3 separate regions of the Homo sapiens genome follow, and all the other regions are linked to region 2. The links come from fine-mapping of genetic effects on gene expression. A gene starts in region 2. Each other region holds a variant in brackets. All regions are shown on one strand. Distances are between the middles of the regions. Region 1 overlaps LRRFIP1 (LRR binding FLII interacting protein 1). Region 2 holds the start of LRRFIP1 (LRR binding FLII interacting protein 1). Region 3 overlaps LRRFIP1 (LRR binding FLII interacting protein 1).

Evidence for each region. PIP is the estimated chance that this variant, and not a neighbour inherited with it, causes the effect.
Region 1: its variant is the best candidate, but not a certain one, in a credible set for the expression of LRRFIP1 in pituitary (GTEx, PIP 0.86).
Region 3: its variant is the best candidate, but not a certain one, in a credible set for the expression of LRRFIP1 in blood mononuclear cells (TOPMed, PIP 0.69).

Annotation. Positions count from the first base shown.
Region 1 is chr2:237,656,677-237,666,481 of GRCh38, reverse strand. The region is part of intron 1 of LRRFIP1 (LRR binding FLII interacting protein 1); the gene reads right to left. Among named protein-coding and RNA genes, the nearest start is that of LRRFIP1, 34 kb to the right of the region's middle. RefSeq lists enhancers at 1,703-2,271, 3,258-3,799. The variant A/G (reference allele first, on the strand shown) is at 4,094.
Region 2 is chr2:237,623,099-237,632,903 of GRCh38, reverse strand. LRRFIP1 (LRR binding FLII interacting protein 1) reads right to left here and starts at 5,317. Exons shown (of 24, transcript NM_001137550.2): 1 at 5,164-5,317. The coding sequence starts at 5,259. RefSeq lists enhancers at 847-1,408, 1,411-1,910.
Region 3 is chr2:237,694,910-237,704,714 of GRCh38, reverse strand. All of the region lies in intron 1 of LRRFIP1 (LRR binding FLII interacting protein 1), which reads right to left. Among named protein-coding and RNA genes, the nearest start is that of LRRFIP1, 72 kb to the right of the region's middle. RefSeq lists enhancers at 143-1,022, 1,023-1,903, 4,206-4,255, 4,266-4,315, 7,422-7,631 and a silencer at 6,309-6,358. The variant T/C (reference allele first, on the strand shown) is at 4,687.

The DNA.
Region 1 (9,805 bases), 34 kb before region 2:
GAAGAGTGGATTCCAACCCTGACTCTAATTAAAACCTTTGAGAAAAATTGGGATCCCTGTGTTTCACAGTTATAGATTACTTCAGTTATACATGTTTTGTTCAAAATCACAGGCTCATAAATCATCAAAGACTGCTGATCATTTTAAAAGAAACCTAAAAAGAATTTAAAAGAAACCAAAAACCAAGAATATCTTGCATTGCTGCACAGGACTGCCAATGCGCCCATTTACAGACAACTGAGGTGCTCGATTTGGGGGATGGAGCCCGACTCAAGAGCTTTCCATGTGCCAGGCACTGTGCCGAGTGCTGTGTGCCAGTTCTCTTATTAATTCTTAAAACAAGCCCACGTATTAGACCCATTTTTCCAAGGAAGGCACAGAAAGGCCAAATAACCTGCTTGAGGTCATGTGGACAATCGGTGGTGCAGCCAGGGTGGGGCCGTCCATGCCAGAGTCCATGCTTGTGAACAGGACCGAGGGGGACGCCCCTGGGGAAGGCCGTGAGCTCCTGGGTGCTTTGAGCCAAAGGCACACAGGTTAAGGGATCACTGAAGCCAGACTGCAGTTGCCATGGAAACAGCATTTACTATTCAAAGACCTTCAGAGGTGTTCTTGCAAATCAAGACAGCAAGAAAGAATCCTTCCACAAACGACCCCAGTGTTGACTGCAGCTTGAGGGTCTTCAGAACAGTAAGGGATGCCCATGTTTGCTGCAGGGAGGTGGCACTGTCTACCCAGACTGCAGAAGTTTCAAATTCAAAAACAGCCAACTCAGCCATGCTGAAAAAAATGTTAACACACTCTCCCTACATAAACACAATATCGCTTTCACATAGTGTCCGGTTTTCATATTAATAACATTTTATAAAGAACATAAATTCATTTTATTTTTGTAGTTGTTTTTGGCAGTTTCATAGCATGAAATAAGTTACTCAGAATAAAACCCCAATTTTAAATATTTTGCTGATAATAAAAAGGCATCAAATTAAGATGTGTTGGCTTGTTGGTATCTCTGGAAACCATCTCATTCTTACGTGAAGAGTGGATTCCAACCCTGACTTTCTAATTAAAACCTTTGAGAAAAATTGAGATACCTGTTTCACAGATTATAGATTACTTCAATTATACATGTTTTGTTCAAAATCACAGGCTCAGAAATTAACATTATTTCAATAAGTAATACAAAAACATCTTGAGAATTCACATCAGTAAATAAGAAAATCAGCATTTTTTCTTTTTTTAAGCTAAATTACTATTGTATTTTACTTTAACCTTAGAATTTTTTCTTTAACCTTAGAATTTTAGTTTCATTGATTTTAAAAAACATAAGTTAATGAAGTAAATGGTTTATTTCACAATAAGAAATTATTTAATAGTAAGAAGCTTATTTAAATGCTTTCATGAATAAGTAAAATTATAAGTATTCTTAAAGTGATGTGAAGAACTTACAAATTCTTCAGAGTCAGCACAGTGCAATGGTCTGATGACAAGCCTGAAGTCATTTGTTAGCTTCCAAAGAAAACCCTACATTGAGTTTTATGAATGGAAATTCTTGGCTGTCACTACATTCTGCAATGTAATGGAACACGAGATTAAGAAGGATGGAAATCTGGGTGCTCCAGGAGTCTTAACAAGTGGTCAGCATCCTTTGAACCCAGCAATTTCCCTTCTAGCAACAATCAAAGATGAGTAGGAAGATGATTGCCAGTGGATGTTCATCGCAACGTTCTTTATACCAGAGAAGGATGGGGCTTAAGTACATCAGCTGTGGGAAGAGAACACTATGCAGCCGTTGGGTAGAAAAAGTACATATAGAATGATTATAAAAGGCGATTTGCTCAAAATTTAAAAACTCACAGAGAAGTTCAAAGGTGGCAGCAAAAACACCCTTCCAGAGGCCAGACCCTTGCACTTCAAAAAAAGTCCATTCAGTCTTGGAGCAGCACTCCTTGCCAGGAAGTTCTCTTCACGCCTCCCTGGAGCTGTTACCCGCATACACAACAACGTGACTTTTCTGTTCCCGAGGCGGCATGCCAGCAGCTGAACACACTGCCACACCGCCGAGGCCCCGTCATTTGCTGATGGACCTCAGTCCAGTCAGAGGTACAATCCAGAACTGAATACCAGCAACCAGCACACTGTGGACAGGCCAGGCGGCAGGCGCACCTGCGGATGGAAACGCAGTGGAGAACGCCGCCGGCCTCTTTGCCAAGAACTCAATCTCCCTGGCTTGGGCCCCCTCCTCTCCACTGCCAGTCCCACTGCGGCCCCAGCCAGGACTAAGCCTCTGTGGTCCTTCTCCCCATGACTTCACTAAAACGGCTCTGGCTGAGGCCGCCAGGACCCTCCCTTTTGCAAGGTGCAAGTGACATTCTTCCCCGGGTCTCCCTTGGGTCTCTCTGCAGCATGGACATGGCTGTTTCCCCTCTGCCCCCACCCTTCACCCTGCTCCTCCCTCCCAGTGCCCTGAGGGCGACCCTTCCTCTGCTCACCCCTTCCTTGTTTCTGAGGTTCCCGGGGCTCCACCCTGGGTACTCTGCTCCACTGACCTACTTAGGAGACCTCATGCAACTATGTGGCTTTGACCACCCTGACCGCTGACGGCTCCCCTCTCCCCTATGGCCCAGGCGAATGCACGTGAACCTTTGCCAGACCTTTCCCTGTGGGTAGTGCTCAGCTGCCTCAAGGCAACATTCCCAGAACAGAACTGAACTCTTCCCCGGGTCCCCGCTCCACCAACCCAGTCAGTTCCACAGTGTCTGTGAGTGATAACGCAACATCACACCATCCTCCCCAAGCACCCTGTCAGAGGCCCGGAAGTCATTCCATGTGCCTCGTCCATTAAGGCTGAGCTGTTTAGGCTGCTGTAGCAGAAGGGCATAGACTAGGTGGCTTATAAACAACAGAAATTAACTTCCCCCAGTTCCAGAGGCTGTGAAGCCCAAGATCAAGGTGCCAGCAGATTCAGTGTCTGGGGAGGGCCCCCTTTCTTGTTCATAGAAGGGGTGAGGGCCCCCTTCCCATTGTGTCCTCACATGGCGGGATGGGGGGGGAAAGAACTCCCCGGGTTTGTTTTATAAGGGCACTAATCTCATTTACTCTCATGCCCTAATCACCTCCTAAAAGCTCCCACCTCCTAATACAGTCAGCTTGGTGGTTAGGATTTCTATACATGAATTTAGGGGAGACACAAACGTTCAGACTACAGCACCTTCTTTCACTCCGCATCTCACAGAATGCTCACAATCTTACTCATTTCTTTTAAACTAAAAATTCTAATAGTTTAGTTAAACTGATGCAGGGCAGGCGAGCCCTAAAGTGGAGCTTAGCCCATCTGGGTTCTTGGCCTTGCTCAGGAAAGAATTCAAGGGCAAGTCATAGGTAGAAGAAAACAGCTTTACTGAAGTGTCAGTGTTCCAGCTCCCTGCCGGCTCCCGCAGGGCAGGGCTACCCCGCAGGCAGAGAGCAGCACCTCAGGGCAGTTTTGCAGTCCTGTTTATACTCACTTGTAATTGCATGCAGATTAAGGAGCGGTTTATGCAAGGAAGAGGTAGTAATCACTGGGTCATTGCCGTGGAAAGGAGCGGTAATGCCTGGGTGCCGTCATGGCAACGGTAAATTGACATAGCGCTGGTGGGCGTGTCTGATTGAAGACTGCTTTCCCCACCGGGCCTGTTTTAGCTAGTCCTCAATCTGGCCCAGTGTCCAAGCCCCGCCTCTGGAGTCAAGTCCCGCCTCCTACCTCAGAAGCAGTTCCAGTTTTTAATGTTAACCAACACAGGGAAAGTGAGGTTTCACTATAAATAGCCACACCGAGAATGGGAACATAAAACTGTCCCAGTTATAGGGATTATTAATGGATTTCGCTGCGGAACAAACAAGGATTTCAGGTCAGTTTATGACATATTGTTATATATCTTCAAATCCTAAGAGAAAGAAAAAAAATACATTCAGACATTGGACCTGAAAAAAAAATTGTCCTTATCTTTTCTAAGGGGTTAAGAGCACATGGCACACACCACACCTTAGCACCCTGAAGAATAAAATCATATACGTGATGGTGAGAATGTAAGAACCCTGCACTGCGTTCAGT[A/G]ACATCCCCCAAAAGTTCATGTCCACCCAGAACCCGTGGATGGGGCCTTATTTGGACATAGGCTTTTTGCGTGTACAATCAAGTTAAGATGAGGTCGTACTAGATTAGGGTGGGCCCTCATTCAATGACTTTCTTATAAGGAAACAGAAATTTGCACACAGAGACACAAATACCCAGGGAGGGGGCCACGTGGAGACGGAGGCAGAGCCTGGTGTGATGTGTCTACAAGCCAGAGGGCCGAGGGCTGCCAGCAGCACCAGAAGCTGGAGAGACGCCTGGAACACCTTCCCCTCAGAGCCTCCAGAAGGAACCCACCTGGCCCAATACCTCGACTTTGGACTTCCGGTCTCCGGAACTGTGAGAGAATACAGTTCTGTTATTTTAAGTCACCCAGTTTGTGGCACTTTGTTATGGCATCCCTACAGACCAACACCTGCATGCTGTCATGGGTCACGCTAGGTGCACGAGGACTCAGTCTTCAGCCAGATTTTACATTTTGTCCAAAGGAATCATGGCAACACCTATTTTGGGGGCTGATAGGTACCTGGGTCAGGAGAGCCTATGCCACTCAGCTGGGCCACAGAACTACAGCGGATTGACTCAGGAAACAGGAAAACAGTGCCCTCTCTCTTCCTGGAGCTGTCCCCATGCACAGCACAGAGAATGTGTGCCCACTCCCGTGTTGCACCAGGGACACAACTGTCCCCCTGGAATGTGCTTTCGGAACGTGCATGGCTCTGGGACAGATGTTAGGTATCACTGAAAAATTCCATCGACAGTGAGGACAAGGATGGTTTCATGGATGAGGACAGAGATGCACATAGGGCAGTTTGCCCTGGGCAGGAACAGAAGGTGAACCAGGGGCCGAGAGCGAGGTGGAAGGAAAGGGATTTGCTCACATCTGGAAGGAAGGAGGGAGTCTGGGGAGGGCAGCCCGGCCAGCTGGAGGGCTTTGGGGAACAAAAAGTTTCCACTGTCTGGGAGCATCAGAGGGCTTGTGCTCTAAGGAGGAGAGGGACTGGCAGGCATGGTGGCATCTGGGTGGACTGGACACACAGTCCAGCCTCCATTATGTGGCCCACCCCACTGTGTCCTCCAGAATTAGCAGCAGCCAGGGGAAGCCAAGCCTCCAAGGCAGAGGGAGAATCATCAGAGGGCCCAGGAAACAGCTCAATCACTTCAGGGGCTTCTGCCCAGGATCCCCCAGGGTCTCCCTGCGTGGCCCCAGATATCCTTCCCTGTTTGTTCACAGTGCTGATGAGGCACCCACTGTAGCAAGGCCTCTCCCCGCAGCCCAACCCAGGAAGCGGTGGGAGAGCAGAGATGGCATGTTAGTTTCTCGGGGCACAGGGACTGCGTGCCTCTGGAGCCAGGCTGAGCAATAATCTCGCCTCTTTCACAAGAGGAGATCCGAGAGCTTCCTCCTCCCTCTCCCAGGATGACAGTGGGTCCTGCAGGTGGTCAGGTGTCCCGACGCTGTATATTGAAGGTGATGGAATATATAAACTCAAAAACGCATGCTTTTCTCCCTTTTTCTGCCACAGACATGTAGCACCGTGCGCTGTTCTGCCCTTGCTTTTTTCACTGAACTTGTGTGTTGAAGCTTTTCTTGCTAAACAATCTAGCTCAGAGCTCCTTCCACAGGTGCACAGGAGCTCGTGGCACTCCTTGTATGGATGGCAACAGGTTTGACCAGTCCTTTATGGCAGACAAATTTGTTTGTTTCCACATTTTTCTGCTACAAGCAAGACTGCAGCAAATGACTTGGAATTTCATATCATGGGAGTAGAGGTGCAAGATAAATTCCCAGAGGTAGAACTTCCGGGTTAAACAGCATGTGCCTTTTGAAGTGGACAGATGCTGGCCAGCTGTACTCTGCAGAGATAGCTGCTGTGGACTCTCTCATCAGCACTGTGGGGGTCCCTATGTCCCCAAACCTACACTGGCCAGCTGTACTCTGTGGAGATAGCTGCTGTGGACTCTCTCATCAGCACAGGGGTCCCTATGTCCCCATATCTACACTACGCAGTGAGTTGCCAAGCCATCTCCTAATCCCTGCTAGTGTGCTGGGGCGTGGGGTGGGCAGATGGTAACCTAGAGTAGTTTTAATGAATACTTCTAATATGTGTGAAGTTTGGACTTCTTTCTGTTTTAGAGCCATGTGTAGTTCCTTTTGTTTTTAACAAACTATTTTATTTCTTTTGCCTTCTCGCGTATCATTGGCCTTCTTAATAACTTTTTAGAGTTCCTCTTGTGAAAATTAGTTTTAGTGACACAAGTTGCAAATATTATATTTTTTCCCTGTTTGCTGCCTTTTGACCTTAACATTGGCTTTTGCCTTTATAAATATTTTAATGTCTATGTAAGACAAAGCTAAACATCTTTTCTGGGGTAACTTATGGGATTTGTAACTTACACGAAATATTTTCCAATATTATCTTAAACTTCTCGGCCACTTGCGGTGGCTCACGCCTGTAATACCAACACTTTGGGAGGCTGAGGGGAGAGGATTGCTTGAGGCCAGGAGTTTGACACCAGGCTGGGTAAGATAGTGAGACCCCATCTCTACAAAAAAGGAAAATTAGCTGGGCGTGGTGGCACATGCCTGCAGTCCCAGCTACTTGGGAAGCTGAGGTGGCTGGACCCCTTGAGCCCAGGAGCGAGGCAGCGATGAGCAATGATCGCACCGCTGTACTCTAGCCTAGGCAACAGAGCAAGACTCTGTCTCTAAAATATATATATTTATATGTATATAAAAATATATAATATACATTATATAAATATATTATAAACATATATAATATAAATATATATAAAATTATATATAGTTTTTTTGGTAAAAATTGATTTCTTCTTGTTGTTTTGTGGTTCCATTTGCCAGCTTTTGACTTTCTTGTAATTTATTTTGGTATGAGGTATGAAGCATTAACTTAGTGTATTCCACATGGTTTGCTCTCTGTCCCCAAACTGTTCTTTAATAACATATCCTTTTCTGCCTGGCACAGTGGCTCTTGCCTGTAATCCCAGCACTTTGGGAGGTCGGGGCAGGAGGATTGCTTGAGGCCAGGAGTTTGAGACAAGCCTGGGCAACATAGGGAGACATCATCTCTACTAAAAATAAAAAAAAATTTGCCGAGTGTAGTGGTGTGTTCCTGTAGCACCAGCTACTTGGGAGGCTGTGGCAGGAGGATTGCTTGAGCCCAGGAATCTGAGGCTGCAGTAAGCTGTGATGGCACCACTGCACTTTAGCCTGGGTGAGGGAACGAGACCCTGTCTCATTAAAAAAAGATATAATAATAATAATAATAACTTATCTTTTCCCACTGGTTTGAAATGCCCCTTTTACTGTATAGAAAAGTTCATCATTTATTTGGATCTACTTCTGCATTTTCCGTTTTGTACCATTGACCTGCCTGTTCATGAGATGTGCTAGTACCATATAGTTTTATTAATTACAGACTTATAATATTTTCATACCTTCAGGCTAACCACACTGATATGGTTAGGCTTTGTGTCCCCACCCAAATCTCATCTTGGATTGTAATCTCCATAATCCCCATAATCTCCGCATGTCAAAGGAGAGACCAGGTGGTGGTAATTGAAACAGGAGGGCAGTTCCCCGCATGCTGTTCTGGTGATAGTGAGTGAGTTCTCATAAGATCTGATGGTTTTATAAGGGGTTCTTCCTCCTTCACTCGGCACTCCTCCTTCCTGCCGCCTTGTGAAGAAGGTGCCTTGGTTCCCCTTCATCTTCTGCCATGATTTTAAGTTTCCTGAGGCCTCTCCAGCTATGCTGAACTGTGAGTCAATTAAACCTCTTTCCTTTATAAATTACCCAGTCTTGGGCAGTTCTTTACAGTAGTATGAAAACAGATTAATGCACAGCCCCCTACTAATCTTTTTGAAAAAATTTCTTGGTTATTATTGCTTGTTAATTTTTCCATACAAGTTTTAGAACCAGGCTATCTGGTACCAAAAGAAATTCTATTAATATTTTTATTGGGACCTGCATTATGTAGATAAACTTGGTGAGGTTTGATATTTTTATAGTGTTAAGTCATCTTATCCAAGAACATGGTATGCCATTTCTGCTGTTGAAAGTTTTGGTTTCTCAGTAGTGTTTTAAAGATTTCTTTATATAAATTGCACTCATGCCAACCTTATTCCTTGGTATTTTATATATTTTATAGCTATTGATATGAAGCCTTTTCTTCCATTCTGTCTTCTAACTGGTTATTGCATGAATATATGGAGGCTATTGATTTCTGGGCAGTAGCTTATACCCAGCTGCCTTCCTAAATCCTTGTACTGTTTGTCACAGTTTTTTAGGTGGTTCTCCTTGGTTTTAGGATTTCCATGCTTGTCTTAGTCCCACAGTTAAATAACGCTCATTGCCAGTTCTCTTGTGTACTTCTTTCACTTATCTCTTGGTTGCACTCGTTCTGAACCTTGGGGTTTAAAAAAGTATTGATAATTCAGTGCTATCACCGAGCTTCTAATTTAATTCATATGGGCTGTGGCTTGAGCCTACAGGTTCATAAAGGATCTCAGTGATTCCATGGAACAATGTCAGGTGGAAGACATTGTCTTCAATAGTTTATTCAAGAAGGAATTATGGGGACGATATTCCTGAATCCTTGCATTTTTTAAAAATGGAATTTCATTTTTTTACATATCCTTCTAGGGAATTATATGCCTATATAAACAAATATATTTTTCTCCTCTTTTATTTTTGAATGACAGTTTGAAGCGTGAACAATTCTGTCACGCTTTCTTTCCTTAAGGCTTTGTAGACATTGCCATAACTTTCTTCTAATAGTGAATGTTGCCACGGAGAAATTGAGGCCAGGTTGGATATTTTCCCATTTGATCTTGATTTGTTGTTGTTGTTGTTGTTTTTTGCCTGTCTTCTCAAGAACCTCTTTATCATGGCCATCTGAAAACACGATTAGACTGTTTCAGTAGTGACTGTACTATCTCTATGTTTTCTGGGGCATGGTGGAGATTCGACTCTTCTTTATGGAATGCCTTATTAATTCATATGTGAAAATATTCATTGTTCCATTTATTTAGGTTTTCCTCTTAGAATACTCCAATTTTACATATGTTGCCTTTGCCTGTCTACTCACTGTTAAATTATTTTCCTCTCTTTATTTCTGTTTCATTTTGCTCCTGTTTCCCATTTCTGTCTTCGCTCCCCTGCCTGGCTGGTACGTGCATCCTCACACTTGACCTGTTTCTGTGATTCTTCATCCAACCTCAGCTCCACTGTAACTGAAACCAAAATGGTGCAAGGATGCCCCCTACCACCGCCAGCCTTTTCCCACCACTGCAAACAAGGGTTTGGGGGCTCTTCTTCAGAAAATGCCCCTTCATGGGTAAGTTTACTTTGATGAAGATGAAAATCTTAGAATAGTGGTTTTCTATCATGAATTATGTTATCTTCGTAACATTGTAAAATTCCACAGAATGTCACATTATATTAGTGAACTTCCATTGACATATAAATTCAGTAATGTTTTTAGGAGCAGTTGCATTTTATTAATCACAAATAGTACTTACAAATGTTTAAAAAGTAAAAATACATACTGACACAAGGCACATTTAATTTTTGTCTAGTTCTCTGAAGTAAAATGCATGCTCTTCTGATTATATTTTTTGCCTCTTTAAATTTACTTTTGTTTATATTGTACAATGAATTAACTTCTATTG
Region 2 (9,805 bases):
CAAGTCTGACATCTTGGTTGCGTGCAGGTGAATTCTGGCCCCAGGGTCACCTCACCAGAGGGCAAGGGACTGCATTGGGGACCCAGATTTGCATCTTTGCAGCTGGGCTCAGTCCTGGACTCTCCACCCCAGAGGAGCCAGGTCAGGTTAGTGCTGGAGAGAGGTAGAGCGAAGTTTCCACACTGAACCCCACTTCTGGGCTGTTCTGGAAAAGAACACGTGCACCCCATCCCCAGCTTGGTTCTCCAACAGCCTTGAGGAGAAGAGAGACAGGCTCCCTCCGCACAGGTTGATATAGGAGGGCTATTTGGGAAGGACAGGGAGAAAAGATGAATGAAAGGGGGACTTAGGATGAAAAGACCCGATATTTACGAACTACCTGAAACAAGGGGCATGGCTTTATGTTGGGTTCCAGAAGCAGAGCCCATGGCAGGACTGGATGTGAGCCCTGTCCCAGCAGGGGCATGAGGGGGGCAGGCCAGTCAGGGAAGGGCTGGGGAGGGAGGTGGTCTCGGCAGGAGTTGGCCTCAGCCTGGCCCGCAGAGAGCTCCGGAGCAGGAAACGTACCACAGAATTGGTTGCATCTTGAAACAAGCCTGGGGGACATTTTGTGACCTCACAAAATGGTTACTTGATGGCTGCAGGCTGCCTTGGGGGCAATGCAACCCCTTCTCCACAACTGGAGTCCTTGGGGGCTGTGTGACCCCTTCTCCACAACTGGACTCCTTGGGGGCAGTGTGACCCCTTCTCCACAACTGGACTCCTTGGGGGCAGTGCGACCCCTTCTCCGCAACTGGACTCCTGTGTGGCCGTGGCTCAAGTGAAAGGCGGTGGCTGTGAGGCCTGAACCAACAGCACCCGCAGGCCCACGAGTCAACTTGGGGCCGGTGAAGCAGCCGGGTGGGGCAGCAGTGCCCCTGCCATGGATCAGGGCCCGAGGCCGCAGGCCACAGAGGGGCCAGCTTGGAGAGGAGGCTGCAGAAACAGTTATGGGGGGAGGGCCTCCGTCCTGCTGGGTGAGGAAGGGGTACCTATGGCACCACCAGGGGATAATAAGCTCACCGCACTGTCTCAAGGCCCCACGGTGAGTTCCTAATGCAGCCTGCGCAAATGACTGTTCCTGTTGGGAAAAACATTCTTCATTTGAGAGCAATACTTTGAATTGCATGGTGAGACCAGTATCGCTTTACTCAGCTGCAGAGTGCTGAATGAGAAGTTTGGGATGCTACCAAAATGCACCAGTAGAATGTGAAATGCGGTAGGAGAGGAAAATCTATCTGCGTTGGAAACACCCCTCCCCAGAAGTGGGAGGCGCAGCTCATGCCTTTGGTGCTAATGAGCTTCTGCAAGTGCGTACTAAACCTTTCTCCTGATAACATCCCGCCTGAATTCCACTGCAACAAGAGAGTGAGAAATAATTGACTTGCGATAATACAGCATTTGCAAATAACTCCCTTTACTATACACGCTTGCCTAGAGTTTAAACCATCACATGGAAGCAGGACACCGGCTGCAGAAGCAGAAATGCACCCTCCAAAGGCTGCCCCCACCACGAGTCCTGCTTCTACCCAGAAGAGTGCAAAGCCCTGCCTGCACAGGGCAGCCTAGCTCTTCCCCTCGCTCCAGCGAACTGGAACCCACGTCCCTGCCAGGTGACTCAGGCTTCCCAATGACCTCAGCCCAGAATTTTCCACTTACTCTCCAGAAGGCATGTTCTTGGGTGCCAGGCCCAAGTGGCAGCCCACTCCCTCCCACTTCCTTGAAGCCTCCCCAGTTTCCATTCAGGCCCCCACCTTCCCAAGTGTTTCAGGGAGGCCGGCTCTCCCCAGTCCCAGGATGAGTCTGACAGGTCACAGGGTAGACCCACCCCCCTTTGCCACAGGCACTGAGCCCCTAAGTCCATGGTCCTTGTCAAAGAGCTTGGTGCAGGAGTGGCCAGACAGACTCATGAAAGTTTACCAGGGAGATACTGCTAGCTCTCTGGAGAGAGCCACCAGAAGAGACGGTGTGTGGGCTCCACAGTGGCAGCCCGGGAAAGCCAAGGCCAGCTGGCCTCCATGAAGCAAGTCAGCCTGAGGATGAGGCCACCCACAGAGGATGGCCCAGCCCAACCAGCTGCGCAGGTGCTGTGGGAAAAAGAGGCCGGAGCCACTGGTGAGGCTGGCGGGGAATCCTGCCCTGCCTCCGGGCTTGCTGTGCTCCAGCCAATATACTTCCCCTTGTCAATGTCAGTCCAGTCAGGGTTTCTGTCCCAGCAGCCAAAGCATCTTGACTGGTACATACAGCCTTCAAGAACTCAAAATGCCACTTCCTCCAGGAAGCCACTTCTGAGACCACTGGCCGGCTGTGATTCTCTCTCATGTCCAAACCTTCAGAACACTGTCTACGCCCTTTTTATATCAGATCCCTTCCTGTCTTCGGTTAGCATTATTGATCTACAGGTGTCAACCCCTTTCTGACCCAACTCCTGGAGGGCAGGCAGGTCCTCGCCGGGTTCCTCCCTGACTCTCCAGTCTCCCCAGGACAGGAATTTGGATACCATGGCTTGTATCTGTTGAGTCAATGAGTGAATAAGAAAGTACTGAACCCAAGACGATTTTGTTGATTTCTATAAGAACCCTGATGAATTCAAGGAGTAGATATTTGCCATTTGAATAGTGATTTTCATTTTCACAGTTGAGAAATAGAAGTTAATTTGTACTAAAACATAAGATGTCACACCTGCTCCCTCCAACCCTATCAATCTGTGCTACTCAGCACTAGTAACAGCTGCACCTACGGCTGGGTTTTACCGGGAGGGGCGTGTAAGAAGCTCTCATATTTACCCACCGCCTAGTTACATACTTTACATTGCTACCCACTTTCTTTAATTCTGACAGCCAGGGGAGGTTTCTTCTTCTCCATTTTAGAGACGAGAAAACAGAGGCCCAGAGAAGAGTGAGTAACTCACCTTCCTAGGATGGCACAGCTGGCTAAGAACTATGTCATTTGAAAGCCCAGCTCTGACTCACAAGTCTATCTCTGTAACTCCAACTGCATCTCCCTCGGTGGGAGGGAGGACCTCAGGGCTCTCAACCCAAGGAGTGTTCCCTTGCCTTCCTTTTCAATCTATTTTATAAAAACCAGCAGATAGGCTGGGCGCAGTGGCTTACGCCTGTAATCCCAGCACTTTGAGAGGCCAAGGCGGGAAGATCACTTGAGGCCAGGAGTTTGAGACCAGCCTGGCCAACACGGTGAAACCCCGTCTCTATTAAAAATACAAAAATTAGCCGGGTGTGGTGGTGCGTGCCTGTAATCCCAGCTACTGGTGAGGCTGAGGCAGGAGGATCTCTTGAGCCTGGGAGGTGGAGGTTGCAGTGAGCCGAGATCATACCACTGTACTCCAGCCTGGGCAACAGAGTGAGACTGTGTTAAAAAAAAAAAAAAAAAAAAAAAAGAAGAAAGAAACACCAGTGGATAAAAGGCAAACTCTGGAAATTTTCATTCTTCTCATTCTTCTGCCCCATAACCACTGACATCAAGACAAGGCTTGCGATTCACTGGCCACCTCTGGCCCTTGCAGGGAACACTTGTAAGGCACTGTGGTCAAATGCATACATAAGTGACTGTCTTCACAGGAGGGAGTTATACTCAAGCTACTATATTTAGCAAATGTCTATATTTAGCCAAAGGTCCTTTAAATGCCTTGTACTTCTTTTGTTTATTAATTAATGTAACAGACATAGACAAACACCTAGTATGTGCCTGGCTCTGTGCTGAGCTCTTGGGATACAAAAGTAAGATATTTCCTGTCTGGGTGTCACCTTCTACAGGTGGACAAATAATGATAAGGTATCCTGACTGCCATGCCAGGCGCGGGCATGCCATGGAGGGCCGTGGAGCCAGGGAGACTTAGGCCTGGTGCGATGTGAGAGGGCTGAGTCTGGAAGGTCTCCTGGAGGTCACAGTGGGCTTCCAGGAATGAATAAGGGTTTGCCTGGAAAGCCCTTTTCTGTATCATACAGAGAAAAACAGAAGTCTTTATTCACTCAGTAGTCAACAAATACTGAGTGACTGCCACATGTCCGTAAGAGCAAAATCAGGTATTTACAACTACAAACACCTAAGGATTGGTTACAGAGTAGATCCCCCAGAATATCTGACGGATACAGCCAGACACCACAGTCCAAATGGCTTGGAGGTGTTTCCTGTGGGAAGAATCACATGTGGAAAAGCCAACACGGAAAAGAACCTGTAAGGCGGGTTACAAGGCAGAGACTTTCTTTGCATTCATACACCCACCTGGCACACAGTTCAAATGGTACAAAGGGAACACAGTCAAAAATTAAGCTTCCTTTGTCCCCCTGGGGCCGCAACCTATTGGCTCCCCTTTTCCCAAGCTGCTGCTCTCTGTCCCTGTACGGCTTTCTGGATGTCATGTACATTCTTTAGCCTTAAGGTAGAATCCTTGCGGAAGGAAAAAAAAAAAGGCATTTGTACAAATACCCATTCTAGTGCGCCTTCAATTTGTCACAGGTAAAGTTCATCACCAAACATGATCTTAGTTACAATAAACTCTGTCCAGGAAACTTTAATGAAGACGTTTCAGTGTGCCTGGACCCGTTTCCAGGCTCAGTCCTGAAAGAAAAATCACAGTGATCCCCAAGTTCATCTCTGAGCTGCACCTTGAGTGACATCGATGGATGGATGACAAATGGTCACCTGAGCGACTCGGCCATTTCAGCAGGGCCATGTGGCCTCCGGCGACCGTCCACTGCCTCCAGGTCGGGCCTAAGCCCCCGCCTCCTCCCATGCCGCACAACAAAGCGGGGCGCTCGCCCCCACCCGGCCAGCCCGGGCCACCTCGCGCGCTGGCGGCGCCCGGCTCCTCTCCCGAGGGCGCAGCGGCCGACGGTGGCCGGGGTGGGGGAGGGCGCGCAGCGTCGCGGGCTGGGCCCGGGGCTGGAGAACGGGTGCGGGGTCCGCAGGCCTCGGAGATCGGGGCCGGGGCGCAGCGCCTGGGGATCAGCGCCCCGGCGCGCGCCTGCCCGGCCCACCCGCCTGGAGCCGGACGCGCAGTGGCACAGACGCACAGCGGGACAGACGGACGCCGGAGAGACCCTGACAGCCGTCCGGCCCCCGCGCCCGCCCGGCGCCCCCCGGCTGCCCTCCCGGAGCGCTCACCTCCCGCGCGATCTGGTTGAGCGCGTCGTCCTCCGCCGTGAGCCGCTCCCGGTTGGGGAGCCGCTTGCGCCCCGATCCCTGGGTGCCCATGTCCATCGACCGCGTCGCCCGCAGCTGCCGCGGGGCCCGTTGCTCCAGCCGCTCGCGCCGCCCCGGCCCGGCCCCGGCCCCGGCCCCTCCCTCCGCCGCGGCGTCATGGCGTCAGCGGGCGCTGGGCCGGGGACGCGGGGACGCGGGGGGACGGGGGCCGCGGGGACCCGGGGGAAGCCAGAGCCGGAGGTCCGCAGCGCGGGCCAGGGACTGCAGGGGCCAGGGACGGCGGGGCGGGGGACGGGGGCGGGGGGCGGAGACGCCAGGTGTCAGGGACGATGGGGGTCCGATACCACGGGGACGCTGCGGATGCCCAGGGCCGGGCACGCGGGACCTGAGGGACCGGGAGCCCCGGAGGGTGGACTTTGCGGGGACTGTTTGGCGGGCCGGTAATCGCGGAGCGACGCGCGCCAGGGCGGTGGGCACCGGTTGAGTGGGGACCTGAGCGGAGAGCGGGGGGGTAGGAAGGCTTTCAGAGGCCTGAGTTGCCTTGAGGGGTTTGCACGGAGGGGTGAGCACAGGATTTGGTTCAGCCTGGCGCTCCCCATTCCGCGGTGAGTCGGGGTGGAAGTCCCTCGCCGGGGTGAGAGCTAGGCTCTGGGGTCAGGCCGAGAGGTGCTCGGATCCGCCCGCCACCGCCGCTCCTGTGACCTTGGCCAGCCTCCTGGGCGCCGGCTTCACAGCGGCATGGTGTGGATGTGTGCGTTTCTGTCTTTACACGCGTGTTCTCCGTGCTAGCATCCATCCTTCTCCCCGCTGTCTGCCCCCTGAGATCAAGGACTTGTCACTTCTCTGGTGGGTCCCCAGCCTCTAGGATCGGGGCAGGTGCGTCGCAGCTCTCTCCTAGTTGTTGAAAAAGTAATGAACTTACCTGTGCTCTCTGAAGCTCACAGTCTATGCTCCAGAGGTGGATTTAAAAGTAAAGCAAATCGGAGGATTAGGTAGGGGTTAAAAGCCCCTGCCTAGGGCACGGCAGGAGCACCGGGTGGGAAAGTTACTGGTGTGTTTGGGGTATGGGGAGAACTTCAGTGTGGCTGGACCTGGGGAAGGATGGGAGGGAGGGTAGTGATGGTAGAGGAGAGGAGGCTGTACTGAAGTCACCTGTGATTTTTTTCCCCCAGTGATAAGGACAGTTAACATTTCGGTGTATTTCCCACCAAGTGGTGTGACCAGATTGCTTTGGATTCTTAAGGAGGTGGCCTGGAAGCTGTATGAAGGTGGGAAGAGGAAGAGGGCCCTTCCACCCACAGTGGCAGGGAAAGCTGTTGGAGGTTTCATTGCAGGGAAAAGACAGCGAGTCCAGTGACATGGGAGGGAGGGCAGATCCAGGTGACATTGCTCTGGGTGCCTGAGCTGACGCAGGTGGGTTGGCAGGGCTGACTGTGGCATTGTTCATGACTGAACTCCGGGAGCAGAAACTGCACCTGCACATTGTAGGCACTAAGGAAATAGGTGTTGACTGAATCTTCCAGGCCATATTTACATTACTTCAGAGGCCATACTCCTTAAGTGACATAGTCCTCCTTGGGGGAAACCTTGAGCCGTGGCCACTTGCACTGCCTTGGTCTTGCTGGTGGCTGCTCACTGTTTCCCAGCCCCTGGGGCACTGTGGGGACTGTGCGTCTTTGCCGAGGCTGGTCCCCATGAGTTCACTCATTCCTGCACCCACACCTGCTGCCTGCCAGCTGCTGAGCTGGAGGCTGGGGCATAGCTGTCCGAGAGGCAGACACGGCTGCTGCCTCTCAGGGCTGACTTGAGATGCCTGGAGCTCCTTAACTAAAGCCATATCCAAGTTCCAACGTCTCCTTTCTAAAAGAAGTCTCCCTTTGCTCCCTGTCCTTCATTGGAACTTTGAGCCACTTTTTGCTAACACCTAAATCCTCCATCCTGATGTGTTGAGGCCAGGAGGGCAGGCGCTGACCCCATCTTCCTCATCTTTAAGCCTTCACCAGGGACTGGCTGTGCCAGTTGCTTAGTGGAGTGCAGTGGTTGAACTTGTGGAACAGAGTTCAGTTCCCAACCCTCCTCCCCACTTTCCCTGTTGGATTGTTGTCCAGAGACAGGAGATTCACTGCCGTGGGGACTGGCCAGAGGTGTGTCTGAACAGCTCCCGCTGGTAGACAGTGTTCTCGGACACTGTGGTGAATTCAGCTTCCTGCCCCTCCCCCATCATCTGTCCACTTCCAGAAAAGAGCCGCCTTTCAGAAATCATCAGAAACAACATTGCTGGGTCCTCCCATGACCCCATGACATAACAACTTCCTGGCTACAGTCCTCTTCCCCTGGCGATGTGCTCTCAGAGTGGACCGGTTCTCACTTCAGAGTCAGTTTCCGCCTCTAAATGGAAATACGGGTGCCCACTGTCTTAGTTCCTTTGTGCTGCTGTAACAGAACGCCTTAGACAGGGTCATTTATAAAACCACGGAAATGTATTGTTCACAGCTGTGGAGGCTGGGAAGTCCAGCATCAAGCCTCCAGCAGAATCAGTGTCTGGTTGAGGCCCATTCCTCACAGATGGTGCCTTCTGTGTGTCATCTCATGGTGGAAGACGGGCTCCCTCCAGGCTTTTGTGTAAGGGCACTCATCGCGTTCATGAGGTCTCTGCTTCAGGACCTGGTCACCTGCAGGCCCCACCTTGCATTGAGGGTTAGGTTTTGACATATGAATGGGGGGGCCACCGCCATCCAGACCATGGCCTCTACCTTGTCAGGGTAGGGACAGTATTCTAGGCAAGAGCCCTTCCAGGGCTTCACACACAGGCAATCGATCAATCATCCTTACAGCTCCTGTCCTCAAAGGCCCAGGTCTGGAATGAATGGTGAACAGCAGTTCCTGTCTGGGCAGAGGGGAGCTAGACAGAGGTATCAGGCAGCTTGGTGGGTCTTCTCCGTGCTTGGGGTGCCTCCTGGAGGAAGATAAAGACCTGCAAGACTCCATCATGCTGATCCATGGGTTCACCGAAAAATTGTGGCTTTTCCTCCACCCTTGACCGTCGGCCCTCCCTGCGTGGAAGTGCATGAGCCTGTTTCCACTGAGAAGACTGGCCTCTGCCACCAGCACTACTGACCCCTCCCATCTAGCCCTTTTCCTATTCCAGATGGTGACACTACCCACCAGGGCTTACTTCAGAGCAGGAAATTGAGAAACTATATCACAGATCTGATGTCCAGGGCCAGAGAATTAACATGTTCATCTCCAAGCCTGGTACCAAGTCCCTTCACAAAAATACAGATGCCACCTTCAGGAAGCCTCCACGAGAAAGTGGAGGCAGCCAGGGAAGCCTTGGCAAGGGAAACCACACAGCGGCGCCGTCCCCAGCGCAAGTTTGCCTTGGTTCAGGAGCTCAGTGGGCAAGCCCTGGGGGCTGGCTGGGAAAGGAAGTTGATGAGCAGCTACGGAGGGGCGTCCAGTCTGCATGAGGACTCAGAGCTTCTCAGGCAGAGAGCCATCTGAGCCATCATGTGGGCCATAACGTGACTCACTCTGGGTCCATTGAGAGCATCATCCGCGTGGGCCTACCTCAAACCTCTTTCACCAGCACTCCAGCCTTGCTCTTCCAGTTCCCAGAGGATGGAAAGCCCTGCTTTGGATTACAGCTGGAGCAGGGCAGGAGAACTGCAGCCCCCCCCCAGGAATGCTGAAGGACCCGTAGAGGAGAGCCATCTCTCACGCATGGAACTTGGAGCCAGCACTCTGCCCAGAAGTGGGGCTGGCTGAGGTCAGGGTCTATGTGTTGCTCAGGAGGTGAATGGTGTCTCCTTTGTCCTGCTGGACGTTTTCAGGTGCATCTTTCAGTAGCTCAATCACAGCACTTCCAAAATAAATCAGTGGATGATGCCTGCCCCAATAAATGCCTCTTCCTTCCCAGGACACCATCACTTCCAGTAACTTTTTCATGTTTTTTGGAGTAAAAACCTTGGAACCATTTTGAAATCCTTTCTCCTTTCTCTACTAAATCTGATCAAATACCCAGCTGGTCTTTTCCTTCATCTCTATCTGATCATTTTGATCCTCCTTTGGCATGTTTGCTGATACCACCAAGCTCTGCAGCTGGTCCCCCTTATCCCTCATCTGTGGATTACTAGCATAAGTCACCTTCTGGACTTGGTGTCTCCAGGGTAGGGTGTCTGAGACAATCTATGGGGTAGGGGAAGCAAATATAGAATTTCTGTTATATATATCTTCAACTAAAAATTAGAAATCCAATGTTACTAATTTTTGGTCTATAAGCTTATTTCAAGCGGTCACTCACTCAAAGCATTTCAGGGGCTGGCAGTGGCGTGCTCTCTCATTACATCATTTTCTGCATATTTTGATATATTTCGGTGGACCAGGTTAAAAGGATTTATGGATTGCCTAACCTAGTTTTAACTAAAACTCAAAGAGTAGATAAATGGCTTCAAAAGATTTAAAAGATTCCCAAAAGCCACAAATAAACAAGAAAATGAGAGACTTGTTTCTTAGTTCAGGCAGGAGGTCTTCACTGGCCTCAGTATAAGGTTATTAGACAGGATAAGAACGTTTAGTAACCATCAAAACTATTTAAACATTA
Region 3 (9,805 bases), 72 kb before region 2:
CTTCTAGAACATCTACCCCCCTTACGATCCTCACATGACTCATATGTGGAAAACAAAGTGCTGGCAATACCGGAAGTGGCAACTTAGCTTACAGGCAATTCTTGGAATCTGCCTAACTCAACACCAACAAATATATGAGCCAGCATTTAAACTGGCACAAAACCTATGCATGACCATCTTCACGAACACAAAACTACACACTTAGCCACAGAATAACTCTTGCCACTTGCTTAAGATGCCTGAGAGAAAATCCGTAGAGTTGGCCAGGCGCGGTGGTTCACACCTGTAATCCCAGCACTTTGGGGGACTGAGGTGGGCGGATCACCTGAGGTCGGGAGATTGAGACCAGCCTGGCCAACATGGTGAAACCCTGTCTCTACTAAAAATACAAAAAATTAGCTGGGCGTGGTGGTGGGCACCTGTAATCCCAGCTACTCGGGAGGCTGAGGCAGAAGAATTACGTGAACCTGGGAGGTGGAGGTTGCGGTGAGCCAAGATTGCACCACTGCACTCCAGCCTGGGCAACAGAGCGAGACTCTGCCTTGAAAAAAAAAAAAAAAAAAGAACATCTGCAGAGTTTCGACAAAATTCTTCCCCAGAGACACTGCGAAGAATGGCACAGCAGCCTGACAGGGCACGGCAGATGGCAGACATTGGGGAGAGCGCTGACTGTGCAGGCAGGGGTTCTCGGGGATCAGGGCACCTCAGGCCAGTGCTCCGGTGGCGCAGGACAAATCCTTTATCGACTGACACTTTTGTAAAATATAAAATCTCATGACGGGCCACAGCCACGTCAGACTGCTTGAAGAGCTTCTGAACACGGCCTGTCACTTTCTGTGAGTAGCCTGTGGGCTGACCGTGGCCCGGGGAGGCCACAGGAATGCACTGTGCTGTGAACGTGCCATGCTGTCTCAGCACTGCTTGAGACAGTGGGAGGGATTTCTGAAATGTGGTTTGGGTGCCCAGTCTCCAGGGAAACAGGCAAAGCACCTGGTGACAATGTACATGTGATGAGGACCACATGGGGGAAGAAACGTGTGGCAGGGGCGGGGGCTGCTCTGGAGAACTTGACCCAACCCCGGGGGGCTGGGGAAGGCATCCGCAGGACAGGAGCCCTAAGCCGGACCCTGAAACAGGACAAGCAGAGCCGGGGTGGCTGCGACCAGGAGCTGGTGACAAGGAGTGCAGACGCCTGGGGTGCAGACCCTCGCCCTCAGCCTCCGTATCTGGAACCTCGTCTTGAAAGAATTCAGAACCACTGAAGGGTTTTAAGAACACAGCGGAATCTGACTTTTGTTTTAGAAACAGGGCTCTGATAGAAATGTGGGGAGCAGGTATGGGGTGGGAAGAGCAACAGGAAACCAAGGAAGTGAGTTGACAGGCTGCTTCCAGCATGGGGACAGGAACGGGCTGGGCTGCAGCGGATCAAGCTCAGTGCCAGGGTTCGGGCCTGTGGAGTTTAGGATACAAAGCAAAAACTGCAAAGGGCTTCAGAGAACTCAGGAGACGAGACTGTGCATACCCCAGACGGCCTGCAGGTTGAGTCATTCTTTCCCTCCCATCCGAGCTTGCTGGATCCTCCACTGATTAGATTAGAACAGCGGCTTCTTGGCATGGCCCTCGCTAGGGTTCATGGGGGCTGGTCTGTCCCCACCCTACAGGAGCCAACAGGGAAAGAGCAAGCCCTTGCCTGCTCCTGGGGTCCTACACCCTGAAGCCTCCTTTCTCTGCCCATACAATCTTTGCTGAGATACTAAAACATTTAGGAGTACAGTGAAATTATCTCCCTCTGACTTGTCTTCAAATAACCTGGGTGGGGTGTAAACGGCTATAAGCTAACAATTGTTGAGGCTGGGTAGTGGGGGCACAGGGCTCTTTAAACTGTTGGCTGAGTCCCATCCCAGATCTGGGTTCCCACAAGCCCCTCCCCCTGCCACCTCCTTGCCCAGTATGTGGAGTCGTTCAAGATAAGGGCCCCTGCCGTGCAGCAGGACATGCATAGCTCGGTCTGGCTGCTGTTTCATAACAAAGAGCAAAAATTTAAAAAGAAAGAAAAGAAGGAAGGAAATGGAAGAGCCCCAAAACCAAAACTCATGCTTTCTGCTGCTGGAAGGTGGCCCGCTGCTGGGTTTTGCAGCGCTGCCCCCACCGTGTCCTCTCTCAGTTCCTGCTGCTGCCCGCGGGGTTAGGATGGAGCAGAGGGAGGAGCTCCTCTGACAAGATCCAGGCTCCCTGGCTTCTCAGGAATGCCCACAATGGTTGGTCCAGAACCATTCCTGTTCAGAACACACAGCCTGGCCCTTTCCCTGGGATCCCACCCATCCTGGCCAGGGACCCCACAGACAGAGTTTTACAGGAACTAGGTCTTACAGCAAGATACTCTTTGAGGGTGGGGATGGCTGGGAAAAAAAGATTCCATTTACTATCAAAGTTGCCTCCTTGTCCTAATCCTAGAAAGCCGAACCACGACTCGAGTTCTATTGTTGCGTCTTATTTTACCATATGTGAATATGACAGCCCTCTGATAGGGAGGTGGTGTGTACGGTGATAAGAGATCTAAAAATACACGAGGAAGCACAAGTATGACCCCCAGGGCCTCCGAAACAAATGGCTAAAAAGACAGCCAGGCTCTCCCAGCCACATTAATGCCAGCCCCACAGCCTGCTGTGGAGCCCAAGTCTATGGGGGCACCTCCCTGGGAGCCCCATCTGCCAGGCACCCAGCCCACAGGCCAGCTGGGGAGATAGGCACCAAAGTGACCCTTCTCCCCCTGCAGGGTCTTTTCTGGGCTGCATGGACCCATGCGTGACATCTCGGGAGCCAGGCTGGAGAGGCCTGCAGAAGACTGCGTGAAGAAGTCACCATCCCCATCCCGAGCCACAGATAAAAGCACATGTTAGGAGGTGCTTTGCAAAGGGACCCCACGGCATGCAGAGGGCCCTGAGGGGCTCTAGTTCTAGACAGAACCACACAGCAGAAACGGCTTCTACCGGGGCAGGGCACACAGGGCAGTGAGGTAAACAGTCTAACCCATGCCTGTTCTTCCAGGGCTCCCCATGGGCCTCCCGCTCAGAGCCCCAGAGATTCCCAGCTATAAGAAGACAGTCACCCAAAGATAATGGCCGTCCCTTCTTCCGGGTCAGGGAACTCAGGGACAGCCCGGCTCAGGCTGGGGGCTCAGGCCAAGGAGAACCAGAGAGAGAAGAAGTTATTGACCAGGACACAAGGAGAAACCCCAGCGGAGCGCAGAGTGGAGAGCCCTCCCGCACGCCCTCCTGGCCTAGCCCACATGTGCTTCCATCCTCGCATGGCCTCAGCCTGCGCTGGAGGTGTTGTAGGCAGTGGGAGTACTGCCTAAGGGTGGGGACAGCCCAACACCCTGAACCCCAATTCCAGTGACGTCTGGGGCTCTAGCAGCTCTAATGGCATTTGTATCCTTCTTGTGGCTCCTACCAGAAGATCATCATGTGGTCTCCTCAAAGAACAGAAACACAACCAACACTGGTGGGGCAGGGGCCCTGACTGCTGGCAAAGGGACAGCAGGTGCTGCGGGAGGCTCGCTGGGCAGCTTGCTTCAAAAGCCCCACACTCCTTCAGGGGATCCTGGCACTGCTCATACATTTCCTGAGCATTGAAGCTTTTCTGGGATTCCAGCCTAGTGTAGAATTACAGATCCCAGGGCCTCTCACCCTACAGTCACAGGAAATGTTCTTACTCTGCTTTTAAACTCTGTGGTGATACCCTAGGGGTCCAGAATTCTACACAGAAGCTGGAAGGGGTTTATGAGCCACAACTTTAGGGCAGGCAGTTCCTGAGAAATACTCTGACGTCACTCCTTCCACCCAGGCTGAGAAGGCCCTGCAGCCTGGAAAGCACCGCATGTGAACCAGAGGCGGCTCCCACCTCCCCCCGCAGAGCCCAGGGGAGACCCAGGGCATACAGCTCATGTGCAGATTCGTGGCTGCCATGCCCGCCGTTTGCCAGGAGCCTGTTAGCGCATATTAGGGACACCCAGTGGGCCAATGGACAGAGGACTGGACCATGAACAGCAGCTCTCCTCAGATGTCAGATGGAAATGACGCCCCACGGGGCTGTTCAGGGAGAGAAGCCGTTTGCCAGCTGTAAAGCACTCTGCAAACAGGAGGAAGTTCTCCTATTAATTACACACATTCATTTTCGCCTCCAGGTTTTAGCGTCAAGCAGAGAAGTGAAAAAGCAGCAGCATTATTTTTCTAGGCCCCATGATACATCACCAGTCTAGTTTATAACCTTTTTGGAAAAGTGTTAAGGATGTAATTCAAGTTCACTCACGTGAATGTGACAGGAATATGATGCAGCCGAAGCCTGAAGTGGCCACAAAGGCCAGTTTGTTCACAGACAAGCAGGGGCCTCGGTCCTTGTGCGATTCTTCCCCTGAGCTAAGAAGGAATCAAGCTCCTGGAGGGGCCGTGGTGTACCCAGGCTGTGACACGGGATCCCTTTCCTGAGCCACTTTGCTATAGGAAGTAGCCACAGCCACCAACTTTTGTTTTCTCTGCAAACCCCCCAACCCTCAGATGCAGTGGCCTCTAAAGTTTGCTATTCACAGCAACCAAGTGGGCCGGGTGATGTTCTCCTGCACAGACGTGGACAAGAACGGACGGCACAAGGCTAGCACCTCCGCAACGCAAGGGAGGCTCACCTCGG[T/C]TCCGTGTACCCACCACCCCATGTCCCCCAGAGGCGATGTGCACTGTATCTCAGTTCCAAAAGAAATGCTCATGTGGGCAATCTCACGAAGTCCCCCAGGAACCACAAAGAGCCTTCCCTACGGCCATGACTGTGAGAACGATCGTTACCAGGCACAGGGCACTCTGGGGTGGCAGCTGGCAGTGGCGGAAGTGTTGACTTAGAGGGCATTTTGGAAATGTTGGGGGGACTGGGATGTCAAAAAGATTGGGAAGAAGCTAAGGGTATTGGGGCGGGGGGGCAGGGCCAGGTCGGCCAACCATCCCGCATTCAGACACGCCTGCGATGGGAAGAACTTTTCCCTTGACTGCTCAGGAAGATAGAAAAACCACTGTTTTGGCCGGGTGCGGTGGCTCACGCCTGTAATCCCAGCACTTTGGGAGGCCGAGGCAGGCGGATCATCTGAGGTCAGGAGTTCAAGACCAGTCTGACCAACATAGTGAAATCCCATCTCTACTAAAAATACAAAATTAGCCGGGCATGGTGGCGCATGCCTATAATCCCAGCTACTCAGGAGGCTGAGGCAGGAGAATCACTTGAACCCGGGAGGCGGAGGTTGTAGTGAGCCGAGATCTCACCATTGCACTCCAGCCTGGGCGACAGAGCGAAATTCCATCTCAAAAAAAAAGAAAAAAAAAAAAAAGAAAAGAAAAACCACTATTTTTAATTTTTGGATTTACAAACTGATTGCAACTTACATATAAACTCAAAATATGTTTTACACAGTTCAAATATACATGAACTATTCCAGGAATGCAATCGACATGGAAATTGAAGGAAGATGATGATACTTGGCTTTGTTCAGAACTTTCCTGAGAGTTAGTCAACTTTGTAGAATGTCACGTCATAGACAGCAACATGAGGGGTGGTGTGTGGGTCTCAGTGCAACACACCTGTGTCAGCCTCCCTGTGACGCCAGGCACAGGTGTGTGCAGGTCTCATCACTGCATTCAACTGCTGGTGTACTTGGTCTTGAGTATTTCTATATCAAAATTCTTATTATGTTACTATAAACTACCTGTATTTTATTTTTTAAGGAAATGTTATATTGACTCGAAATTATGTGCGCTGGTTGACTTTCTCACCTATGCATTTCATTTCAGGCTAGTAAGGAAGTTAAGGAACTTGTAAAAAGACAGGGTTGAGAACCACAGCTTCAGAACTCCAGTGTGGATCTCTCGTCTCTCCATCACACTGTATGAACCAGCCCCGGCACAATTCAGAGCACAGGTCTGGGTGCCTGGTGCTCAGGCCATCATGAAGATTTGGATGGCATAAAGTTAGAGATCAAAGCCTAACTGATTACTTAAAACACTATGTTTCCATCAAAATTAACTCAGACAAATTATGGAGTAGACTGAAATTACCATGAAAGTTTACGGTAAGACGGCCACCTTCAAAGAAGGCTTTAGCTTACAAGGCTGCTCCTGGCCGGGCCCACAGGCCCCAGGAGCCAGCACACTGTCCTCTGCACTCGGGGGACCTGGCAGACAAGTCCAAGAAATGCTGGGTGCCGACTGCTTCTCTCAGCTATGGCTGCACTGTTCTCAGTAAAGGTCTGAGTTTATGCAGGTGCAGACTGTCAAGAAAGGAGTCTGAAGACCCAGCCACAGCCTCCAGCTTGGGCTCTGTCACCTACAGTTATGTGAGCCTGGATAAGTTACTCGGTTTTTGAACCCCAGCCCTCATTAAAGAAGTAGGAGGGGACGTAATCTTTAAGAGCTTCCTTCCCCTCTGAAATTCTTTGGGTTCATGCCAGAGGTGAATTATTTGTACACTGAGATTGTCCACAGACTGTGTCTGTTTTGCTACTGGAAATCTCCAGGCTTTGCTTTTCAGAATAATAAGCTTCTTTAAAGTCCTTCGCATCCTAAAATAGCAAACGTATTAATCGGGAACAAAATGATTGATGTTACTTTATTGATGACTCACACATTGACCTATTCAAACCTCACAACACAATCTTGGGCTTAGCAGCTACTCCCACTGGCGCTAAGAAATAAATACGCTATACAGTATCTTCCATGCAAGTGAACTTCTACTCTTGCTGTTAATACATTTCTTGCTTTTCCTGAGATGAATGAATCTTCATATTTCCTTCAATTGCCTCAACATGATGGAAATACAAGAACCATGACTACCACTAACAGAGACGTGCGGGACTGAGAGGCGAGGGCGGCTGGGCCTCCCCTGTGCCGTTTCCTCTCCAGGTGACAGGTTTCCCTCCAGGCAGCACGTCTGGGCTCCACTCCCTTCACCTTTGCCTGCTCTGCTCAAGACTGTCCTACAAACCCCAGACCTCTAGGGTTTCACAAAAACATTTAAATTGTTTCCTCTGAGAAGAAGGCTGAAAGCTCCACCAGCACCAGGGCAGCACACAGCAACTGACAATCTTTCCTATATTCAGTGGATATTCCCTGGAACCAGCTATAAAAGAAACAGCAGCTGTCATGTTTATCCTCCATGAACTTATCTACTTGGATGAGGTAGGGGAGGAGTTACATCATACCCAGAAAAATAAAAAGGCTTAAATCACAGCAGCTCTCAGGTGTATGCCGACATAAGCAGTAGTTAACATTTTAGCATGGTACAAAAATAGCAAAACAAGTTTCACAGCTATTTCATTTCTACCATTATTTTCCTTATGTAGAAAAGTAAAGCTCATTGGGCCGGGTGTGGTGGCTCATGCCTGTAATCCCAGCACTTTGGGAGGCCGAGATGGGAGGATCACTTGAGGTCAGGAGTTTGAGACCACCCCGGCCAATGTGGTGAAACCCCATCTCTACTAAAAATACAAAAATTAGCCGGGTGAGGTGGCAGGCACCTGTAGTCCCAGCTGCTTCAGAGGTCTGAGGCAGGAGAATCGGTTGCACCTGGGAAACGGAGGTTGCAGTGAGCTGAGATTGTGCCATTGCATTCCAGCCTGGGCAATCAAGCACGACTGTCTCAATAAAAAAAAAGAAGGAAAGTAAGTTCGTTCTTTGAATGTTCTCTTCTGTCTGGAAATTACCAGGCAGAGAACAGAAAAGTTTGACAGAGTGAAGACTTCCCAGTATGCATTCAAGACAAGGACTTCTGTCCTAAGAGGCAGCTTTGGTAAAAAGAAATCCTTCAGCCCCAATACTGGGGTATGAGACAGCAGGGCTGCCAAGAAAAGCTGACAACAGCGACAAAAGCAGCAGCAGCAGCCGTGGCAGCCACAGCTATATCTTGCACATTTACTACCTGCCAGCCCCTGCCTGCAGCATTGCATACAGTGGTGACAGTTATCAGTACCAGTTCCGAGTCAGCAGGCCTGGGTCTGAACTGGCTCCACTGCTGACTAGCTGTGAGGGCTTGGAAAGTCCCTGACCTTTCTGAGCCTCAGTTTCCTCTTTATCTGAAAAACTGAGAGAAAACGATCTGCTCCCCATGAGGTTACAGCAAGGGTTAGAGAAGACCTTCACATAAAACACCAGGTGGGCGCAGCAGGGGTTTGGTAAATATTAGCTACTTTCACTACTTAGTGTCTTCTTTGACAGCTACTGACCTAAGAGTATAAATCCGGTTCAGAGAAGTTTAGAAGCACGATGAGAAGACAAGCATGCTAAGGCACCCACCTAGCAGAGAAGCAGGAAAAACTGGGGAAACTTCAGAGGAGGGGGACAGAGGTTCTCAACCCACAGGGAAAGCCCACTCCTTTCCCTAGGAAAATCACACAGCCACGTGCCACATACAGTAAAAAAGACAGAAGGATCACAGGTGGCGTTGCTTTGATCATCTTCATTACACAAATAAATGAAACATTTTGGTTAAAATTAAGAGTAAATCTTCATTATAGTGATTTAAGATAAATTACTTCTCTACTACAAAGTAGTTATACTTTAGATTCAAGGGAAAACTACTTACCTAGTTTTAAAGTTGTAAAGTTACAATCCCAAGGAGAAACCACTGGAAACACTGGCCCTTTCCAAAATGAATGAATGAGTCTCGGAATACATATAATTTCTGTTGCCAGGTGTGTGTGTGTTTTGGTTTATTGTTTTGGAATCTGGCCTGGGGCAGGGGGATTATACTACTGGTCTATAATCAAATACATGGCAATTTTGAATGATTAAATCTTGCATGTAGTCAAAATATTTAATTTGGGAGAAAGAAACGAATTTACTTAATTTTATCTAGGTAGTCTGAATAATAAAAGTTCTAGTAAGTCCATTCCATGAAAACAAGCTTCTTTATTTAAAAAAAAAAAACAAAAAACAAATTTGGGCGGCCTCCAGTAATAACAGTGAGGTAATAAAAATCCTCTTCTCCTGTCCCATGTCTAACACGTAGTGAGATGTAATGGACTTACTGATTGGTGAAGAGGTTGGTAATCTAAACATTATGGCCTCTGGGGCTTCAAGATCACTCCTTTAAATACGAGCAGATATTCTGGAAGCACTGGCATATGAGTAACCAGTCATAAACAATTCCTTTGCTGAGTCACACAGCCTGATTTTTCGGGGATAAGAAGTTCCTCTTGGACATTGCCTTTTGAGGACCAAACATGCTGCACCAACATTTAGTCTCACAATTCTGTAGGGATTGGATAAGAATCTCACTATAATCAGGTAACTCTCCAATCAACTTCGCTGAAACACCGTTCTGCAACTATAAATAACTTGATTTCCTGTGCTCAGCATAAGTGGCAGTTGAGACTGCAGGGTTTTTTGAAATTTGCTAAGGAGGCTTCCGCTGTGGGATATTAACTCAGGCTGAACAGAAACTGACTCTTAAAGAAAAAGGGAAATTTAGTCTCCATCTTTGCCCCAGTAGGACACTCTCAATACTACTAGAAAAGACCTACCTTACTATATTTATGTCTTACCTGCCCGGGGAAATGACATGCCTAAAACACACACCATATGATTCCACGCTCCACCATCTCAGACTGAGCTAGAGCAGGGCCAGCCCGCCTCGTGCCAACTGATTCATCCCCATATTGGTCAAGACTCCACTCTCCCACACCTGGGGACCCTGGCCCAGGTACCTATAATGAGATGGGACTTGGGAGACTGTGTGTCCACGCTCTCCCCTAACAGCCCTTTCTTGGGACAGT